2 linked regions of the Homo sapiens genome follow. The protein of the gene in region 2 purifies or fractionates together with the protein of the main gene of each other region. This does not show direct contact. Each region holds a gene or a part of one and is shown on either strand. Other genes may lie near its edges.

Region 1 (3,500 bases), on a different chromosome or scaffold from region 2:
GCAGGTCTGGGGGTGGCGGAGCTGGGAGGCCATGTCCCCCAGCCGGCCGTGCTTCCTCCTCTGCAGGCGGGAGTGGGAGACTCGTCTGCAGGAGACGCTGGGCCCGCACTATGTGCTGCTGTCCTCGGCGGCCCACGGCGTGCTCTACATGTCGCTCTTCATCCGCAGGGACCTCATCTGGTTCTGCTCAGGTGGGCGCGGCTGGAGGGGTGGGCGCGGCTGGAAGGTGGCAGCGTCCCACAGGTGAGCTGAGGGCTGCCCCTCCCACAGAGGTGGAGTGCTCCACGGTGACCACACGCATCGTGTCTCAGATCAAGACCAAGGGGGCCTTGGGCATCAGCTTCACCTTTTTTGGCACTTCCTTCCTCTTCATCACGTCCCACTTCACCTGTAAGTTGCTTGGTGCCCGCACCGCAGGTGCTGTGTGAGAACAGCTTCCTCTCCTGACCGGGACCCTGTCCAAGGCAGGGGTCCTGACCGCTGGCTTCATCTTCCACCCAGGGCCGTGGGGTGGGCACCACGCTTGCTAAGATGCACGCCAAGGACCCCCGGCAGACCCCGGCACCGAGGGCGTGCCGTGCTGGGCCCGTGCTCTGTCCTCCGAGGCGGAAATGTCACTGGCTGGGCCCGGCAGCGGATGCCCGGTGGGGTTGCGTCTGCCGGGGGTGCGCAGTCAGGGCACAGTCCAGAGGTGCGGCGCTTTAGGGAGACTCGAGCATCCGGAACCCTGTGGTCCCTACCCCATTTCTGTTCCCACAGCAGGTGACGGGAAGGTGGCGGAGCGGCTGCTGGACTACACCAGGACTGTACAAGCCCTGGTCCTGCCCAGAAATGTGCCCGACACCAACCCCTATCGCTCCAGCGCAGGTGAGGGCGTCCACGCTGCGTGTGGGTGGTGCCGCCGTGGTTCGCACACGGGCGCCCGTCGTTTTTAGGGCAGTTCTGAAGAGGCAGCGTCCTGAGCTTTGGGAAGCGAGGGCCGAAACGTCCAGTGCCCCCAGCGCATGGCCCCTCGCGGTTCTTTAGCACGGTTAGTGGGGTGGGCGGATCCTGTCCACTCGGCGTGGCCCACTAGCCTGGGTCCTGGTCCTCGCCACTGCCCGCCCCGCCGCCTCCCCTGGCTGTGTGGAGAGGAGCAGGGACGTGGCCATCGCCTGCCATGGGCATCGTCTGCTCCTGAGGCTGCTCCAGGTGCCTTCTGGAACTGTCCCAGTGCGAATCCCACCCCTGAGGGCCCGGCCCCACCGGCTGGCGCCCAAGACCCACTTCCCCTGAGAGCCACTCCCAGGCCATGTTCTGGGGAAGGGGAAGGACCTGCCGTCCCTCTGCCTGTGCCCACACATGGCCCACTGTGCCGCAGCGGACGTCACCACCCGCTTCGATGAGGTGTTCTGGTTTGGAGACTTCAACTTCCGCCTGAGTGGCGGGCGCACAGTCGTGGACGCCCTCCTGTGCCAGGGCCTGGTGGTGGACGTGCCGGCGCTGCTGCAGCACGACCAGCTCATCCGGGAGATGCGGAAAGGTGAGGGCCTGGGGGGGCGGGCATGGAGGGAGATGAGGAGAGGTGAGGGCCTGGGGGGGCGGGCGTGGAGGGAGATGAGGAGAGGTGAGGGCCTGGGGGGCGGGCGTGGAGGGAGATGAGGAAAGGTGAGGGCCTGGGGGGCGGGCGTGGAGGGAGATGAGGAGAGGTGAGGGCCTGGGGGGGCGGGCGTGGAGGGAGATGAGGAGAGGTGAGGGCCTGGGGGGGCGGGCGTGGAGGGAGATGAGGAAAGGTGAGGGCCTGGGGGGGCGGGCGTGGCGGGAGATGAGGAAAGGTGAGGGCCTGGGGGGGCGGGCGTGGAGGGAGATGAGGAAAGGTGAGGGCCTGGGGGGCGGGCGTGGAGGGAGATGAGGAGAGGTGAGGGCCTGGGGGGGCGGGCGTGGAGGGAGATGAGGAGAGGTGAGGGCCTGGGGGGGCGGGCGTGGAGGGAGATGAGGAGAGGTGAGGGCCTGGGGGGCGGGCGTGGAGGGAGATGAGGAGAGGTGAGGGCCTGGGGGGCGGGCGTGGAGGGAGATGAGGAGAGGTGAGGGCCTGGGGGGGCGGGCGTGGCGGGAGATGAGGAAAGGTGAGGGCCTGCGGCGGGTGGGGGGAGGGTGGGCGTGGTGGGAGATGAGGAGAGGTGAGGGCCTGGGGTGCGGCGGCTGGCACAAGCTGGTCTGAGCCAGTCCGAGTGCCCATCCTGTGGCAGGGTCCATCTTCAAGGGCTTCCAGGAGCCGGACATCCACTTCCTCCCATCATACAAGTTTGACATCGGGAAGGACACGTACGACAGCACCTCCAAGCAGAGGACGCCCTCATACACGGTGAGGCCTGCCCACCGCTGCGGTGCAGAGTGCTTCCAGGGCAGGCATCTCCCACAGCCGGGAACCGATGCCTGGCGTCAGGGGTCTGAGCCTGGACGGCCTGGACTTGAAACTCAGCTCTGCACCTTGGCCTTGTGGCAAGTCCCCTTTGGTGGAGAACGGCGCCCTCTCCATGGGTGTTTTCAAGGCTGGGTGAGCCGGCTGGCACACAGGGCACCAGCCATGCCCTCGCCTCCGGCCTGCAGAGCCTCTGCCCTCTGCCCGTTGCACCCTCGCTCACCCTCCTGCCAGGCCCATGGCTGCATCTCTGGGCATGTCCCGATATCTGGATATCTGCTGGAAGCCTCAAGAAGCCACTGAGGCAGGGCAGGGTAGGAGCAGCCGCTGTCCACAGGGTCTCTCCAGCGGCGAGGGACAGGCCCTGGCCCAGCTGGCCACAGACGCCAGGCAACAAAATGGGCATGAGTGTCAGGGGTCCCAGAAGGCTTCCTTGTGGGGGGCGCTTGAGAACAGCAGGGAGGTGAGCGGGCCACGCCCCACGGCTCCTCACAAGTAACTGGACCTCCTGCCTCTGCAATCTTCCCAAAGGACCGCGTCTTGTACAGAAGCCGCCACAAGGGTGACATCTGTCCTGTGAGCTACTCTTCCTGCCCCGGGATCAAGACGTCCGACCACCGCCCTGTGTATGGCCTCTTCCGGGTGAAAGTGAGGCCGGGGCGAGACAAGTCAGTGTTCTCCCGCTCACCTTCCCCCTTGGGCCTGGGGGTCGTGCCGTCGTCCCATGAGCTAAGAGGGTCCCTGTCATCGTGGGGTTCCACTTGGGGCTTTGTTCTGGGACCTTCAGGGCTGTGTTCCCCGGGATCGGTTGGACTCATCCTGGAGCAGGAGAAGGCAGGAAGGGGAGAGGCTCTGGAAAGTGAAGAGAGGCCCAGCTGGGGGGCTGGGTGTGGCCAGCTGGAGGGACGAAGGCCTTAAGCACTCAGGCATCCGCCCTGTCCTTCCTGCGGCTCTGTCCCAGGAACAGGCCTCCGTGTGCTTAGAGGCAGGGCCAATCTGGGCCAGTGCCCACCTAACAGCCCCTCATCCTGGCCCTGGGTGTCCTCTTAAATGCCCCCTCCTCCGGGGCCGGCCCCCTCCTAACGCCCCCTCCTCCTGG
Region 2 (5,321 bases):
TTTTAATGTTTTATTTTTTCAGGGGGAAAACCCTTTGGCATTCATACTGCTCTATCTCTAATCCTCTATTCAGCTAACTCTGATTTTGCAAACTAAATGAAATATTATTTTAATGGTAAATTGTTCTCACTGATCTCTCAGAATTCAGGAAGTAATTTGAGTCACTTTACTTTTTAATGGCAATATCATCTTTTGCATAGGCTTGATAAGAATCCGTCATCCCTTTTACCACAATGTAGTCAAACAAATAGACCATGCAACCAAGATCAAGTCTAGAGTGTCAAATTTAAAAATAAGCCTCATTTCAACAAATACGATACGCCCACTATTAAAGAAAAAATATATAACTTCATATTTAGAGCAATATCCACAAAGCTCTCCCAAGAAGTCAAAACTGTTTATGACTTAACAGGCCCAACCTTACAGGCAGTACAGAAGGTCACTTCCTGGATTGCCAAGAACCATACCAGATTTGGAAAATCTGGAGGAAAGAGAAATTCACCAACACTTAGAGATGCTGAACATGAAACCTAGCAGAGATGAATTTCTTGAATTTGGTTCCCTATCCTTGGAACAGAAGAGCAAATAGAAGCATTTAAGGAAGATGTCCGGAGTAATGGAAGCCATTAAAAATGCTCTCCCAGATTTCTTGATAAGTTATCGGATAGAAGTTAATATTCTGGCTTTATAAATAATAGTTGCTCTGCATGGTATAGCATTCTATTTGCTGTCCATATACAAGACTTTTGTATGCTAATTAAAACATCTTCTGAATTTCTGTCAATGAAGCAAGCCCAAACACAATGCCATTTTGTGACCATGAACAGTCTGCAGAGATTATTTATGGTAATAAAGAGGAAAGTCATACTGAGTACTGTATAACTGACCCACTCAAAGACTGTCTAAATTCTCTAAGGGTATGCACATTTGTTTTCATTCACTATTGTCAGTTAGGGTATTTGAAAACTCTGTAAGAACAGACATCAACTTATCAAAAACTATGAGTGATGCAAATGATTACTGCTCTAAAATGTCAAACGTATTTCCTTCTGGATGGATGCAAATGGTTTCTGTCCATTATAATCCAAAGGTTACAACAGGGGTGTCCAATCTTGGGCCACACTGGAGAAGAATTGTCTTGGGCCACACATAAAATACACTAACGATAGCTGATGAGCTTAAAAAAAAAAAAGGCAAAAAAAATCTCATAATGTTTTAAGAAACTTTGAGTTTGTATTGGGTGGCATTCAAAGCCATTGTGGGCCTTGTGCGGCCCACAGGCCACAGGTTGGACAAGCCTGGGTTACAATTTTATTGTCCTATAGGGTATCAACCAGTTTTGTGATTCAAAAATCATATTCTAGAATATTTTAGCGACTAAAACACTGATAATCCTACTGTGTTGCTGTAAATCAGCTTTACTATCCTGCAGCTTCTCTTGTTAAGGAAATCATGAATCAAAAATGAATCAAAGTAATCTCTCACAGATATTCATTCTAAGAGAAAAACCTGTGCTTAAAAGAGAAAGGAAAAATGCAGTTGTTTGTTCTCATTCATTGGTGAGACTCTCAAGGGATGTTTCCCCGTCTTATTTTCAATATTTCAACAATAAGTATAAATTCATTTTAAATGGAAAAAGACAACTCAATAGATCTTGTGAGTATGTGTAGTTTGGAATCACTGTACGTGATAAGAATCAGAGCTAAAGATAGTAAGGTTGTGTATGAACAGTGTGGAGAAAAGCTGAGCACCACTGAGGCAACTCCAACTTTCTAGACAACTTGCTATAAAGACAAATTTACTACCTAATTCTTGGTGAGTCATGATTTCACTGACTACTTCTCATAACCATACACAAGCAAATTTAATGATATAAATAATACAAGTCAGCATTTCCTCATAGTCTTAAAGAGAAGTTTGTAAGACTCAGAAATTTCATAAAATTCCCAACTCCTCTGTTATGTTTTTAAAGAATTTATACTTGTGAGAAGTCCGCAGAGCAACTAAATTAACATTAATTCCTGGAGGCCTTCAAGATAGCCAAACAAGCCTATTAATAGTGATATGGGAAGAAGAAGGATAGCAGGAGAGAAGAGAAAGATAGCAGCTGTGGCTAGTGAACATGAATATCCTATATTCCCACATATCCTGGAGTCCATCTCCAAGGCTGCCCTGTAGATGCTGGTTAATGAAACAGTGAGGTCAATCACTGTTGAGATGAAGATTACCAATCGCTCCATTTCCTGCTCCCTGAGTCTTTCCTCCCTCTGCCGCCGGTGATAATCCATCAGGTCATCACGTCCTGAAATGGAGCTAATACTGCTTTTCCGTTCCCGAAGGGCAGGCTGGGGGGTTCCTGAGGCCTGTCTGAGGCTTTCCAAATCTGCCTCATCAAATTCCACAGATCCACAAGAGAAGTTCCTCCTGGTCGCAAAAACTCTGTCTGACTCTCCAGCAAGAAGTGAATGACTCGGGTTTGTCCCCACATATGAAGCCTGATCAAAGTCATCAGAGGCACAGGAGGAGGTGGAGGCCAGAAGCATCTTCCGAGCCACTCGTGGACTGGCAGGGACACTGAGGGTAGAACTTACATAAGGATTGCCTTCAGAAGCAGAGGTTTTATAGGGTAAAGCCCCTGAGCTCAAAGAAGAAAAATTAAGGTAATTGTCATTGTCTATTACGCTATGAGGTAGATCCTTTTCCCCAAGTTTTGTTCGTTTGGAATTGCCCAGAGAGTTTCTTGGAGGCAAGCTGAGAGGTGTCAGCTGGTTCTCTGTGGCTCTGTACAACCTGGGAAGTGATCGGCTGTAGGCTCCCATGTGACTCAGGCTGCTGCTGGAGTACTTCCTAGTTCTCAAATTGATGTTTTCAGATGCAAGCTCCTTGTGTCTAGTTAACTTGGGTTGAAGCGCCAGGCTGTCCTGAATGCTCATTTTCCTGGCTTGCTTTGGGCTTGAAGGCATGCTTGCGGCTCCCGATCTGCTGATAGGAGGCGGGCCAGCATCACTCAGGGAACTTCCATTCCACATGGCCAGGAGCGAGCCAGATGCCTTCCGACCTTCCAGCCCTCCAAGAGAGTAGACATTGTCATGCGATTTATGCCTTGAGCTATATTTGGAATAGGGAGGCTTCTCTGAGAGCCTCAAGGCCCTTTCACTGTCCCGGCCAGTATAATGATCAAAGTCTGCTCTTCCAAGTGGATATCCACTGAGGGAGGATGTAGTGTTGAGTAAAGGAGTTGGAGGTTTCATAGGAATATTTTTGTCAGTTCCATCATAAGAGAACTGCTTGCTTCCCTGGATTTTGGCTAAGGAGGGGCTGCTTCTGACACTGGTTCCCAAAGGAGAAGGGCTTCTCTTTGCAGGCACAGGTTGTGAGAGGGTTAAATAGGAGCCAGAATAGTCTCCATTGGCTTTAAATCTCAGACTGGAAGAGTATTTCTTTGGGCTGAGGCTCTCCATCATGTTTTGGGAATCGTTCTCAACAGAATGCACCACAGAGTCTTCCTCTAAGCTACCATTTTGTAAATCTAGCTCCTTTTGTATGTAGCTATGCTCTTCCATAATCTTGCTGGAATCTGTAAAGAAATAAAACAGAAAATTTTGCCTTAAAGAAGATTTTAAAAGAACAATCCCTTGTTAGGCCTACATCTGAACAAACAATCTTGCAGTCTGACCTAATGCAACTAACAAACACAAACTCAGTTTTACTAAAAAACCTGTTAAAACCATACAGCAAATTAAAGGAGAATAAAGATCATTGACCTGAGATAACTTATGTACAAAAGAGAAATAAAAGGACAGCAATGACATTTGAGCGAAACAAATCCCTAACCAAGTAAAGGTGCAGGATTAGGCTGGTACATTAAAAAAGACAATTTGTCCTTAATGTTCTGGCCCTTCGAGGAACACCTGCTTCCCTAGTGACTAGCTAATGCCCAAAGGCATAATGCAATGGACTTTCCTATAGCTGTCTCTGCTAGAATCATTAACTGTTCAGAAATAAAGTCCTGAGGAAACAAAATTCACATTTGGGCAGAGAAAAAAAAGTTTACGTTAGACACTGATCAATAACATGAGGGTTAGAAGATGGTTCTTTAAACAAGGACTCTGGGAGTTACCTTCTCAACAAAAAGACTTAAAGCTCCTTTAGTCATCAGAGGTAGGTAATAACAAAGAAAAGGGTATTCCACCAATTATTGACACATGGTCGGGATGGTATATTTAAAAACCTGAAACTGTTATATCCTTTAAATTTTCTAGTACCCCAAATGCACTATGCTCATCCTTGCAAATTCTCTCCTCTAGCAGAAACAACTATCAGGACCTAGTCACTCTTCCAGGGACAGATCAGGATTCTATCTTCCACCATTAAAATTTTTAAGAAAATATGTTTTGAACCCTGGTTTGCACAATGTTAACTTAAAACACTAAAGTTTTAGCCAATGAAAATGTCTTTGAATTACAAACTATTACTGCAAATGGGAAGGCTTATAATTCTACCTGATAAAAAAAAATTTTCTTAGATTATCAGCAAAGGGAAAATACAGTTTAAACATTGTCACTGAACTCATGAACCACTATAACTGTCCTCCAACCCTTAGGCACATCAGACACTAATTATGACATCTCTGGTCTATATATAAACAGTATCACATATGGTTAGTAATGGTTTCATAATGTGGTTGTCTCTGTAACTAGGCCACAAGTTTAAGGAAGAGGTTATGTCTAGTATTTTTATCTTCCACCCCTCTAGCTCTTGTTGTCCTATAGGTGAAAAACTTGATGAACATAAGCTTTCCATTTTAATCAAAGCCTTCCTCACTCCCTCTCAGCCATGGATTAAGGACCTTCACCCTGTTGCTTAGCTTCACACACTTTGTGAGCAAATTCAGGCAGCCTAGTAAAGAGCTGCTTCTTTATCCAGAAGGCCAAGAAACAGTCTGGCTGCATAAATCCTGGTGATGGGCCAGGTACCCAACTGTCCATAAAGGTGCCTTGGGCTCCTTCTCCTCTAACCCAAAGCCCTGCCCAGATAGATACAAACATAATTTATCTTTTTAAATGTACCTCAAGAAAAAAATGAAGTTTCTTCATTATATTTGGCTCCCAGCTGGGATCTAGTCCTGCCATCTAGCTCTTGGTAAGGCTTTCATTTCCTCCAGGACAGTGCCCTTTCTGCCTCCAAGACAAATACTCTTCTCAGCATGTGTCTACTGCTATCAATTCTGGTTTTAAAAGCAACACCAGCCTGGATTGAGAAATATCTTACCATGCCCGCTTAGAGGACTGAAACTGAGACTCCTCTATTCTGAACTAACA

What was found.
Region 1: the proteins of PHLDB2 (region 2) and INPP5E purify together in Homo sapiens (affinity purification with mass spectrometry, with the first as the bait; one large-scale study listed by BioGRID). This does not show direct contact.

Annotation. Positions count from the first base shown.
Region 1 is NC_000009.12:136,429,846-136,433,345, reverse strand, and holds part of INPP5E (phosphatidylinositol polyphosphate 5-phosphatase type IV), read left to right. Parts: intron 1-66; coding exon 67-191; intron 192-270; coding exon 271-390; intron 391-759; coding exon 760-867; exon of another isoform or gene 868-1,030; intron 1,031-1,360; coding exon 1,361-1,522; intron 1,523-2,228; coding exon 2,229-2,344; intron 2,345-2,932; coding exon 2,933-3,069; intron 3,070-3,500. UniProt on the Homo sapiens protein: Phosphatidylinositol (PtdIns) phosphatase that specifically hydrolyzes the 5-phosphate of phosphatidylinositol-3,4,5-trisphosphate (PtdIns(3,4,5)P3), phosphatidylinositol 4,5-bisphosphate (PtdIns(4,5)P2) and phosphatidylinositol 3,5-bisphosphate (PtdIns(3,5)P2).
Region 2 is NC_000003.12:111,882,320-111,887,640, reverse strand, and holds part of PHLDB2 (pleckstrin homology-like domain family B member 2), read right to left. Parts: intron 3,578-5,321; coding exon of another isoform or gene 3,564-3,577; coding exon 2,229-3,563; intron 1-2,228. UniProt on the Homo sapiens protein: Seems to be involved in the assembly of the postsynaptic apparatus. May play a role in acetyl-choline receptor (AChR) aggregation in the postsynaptic membrane.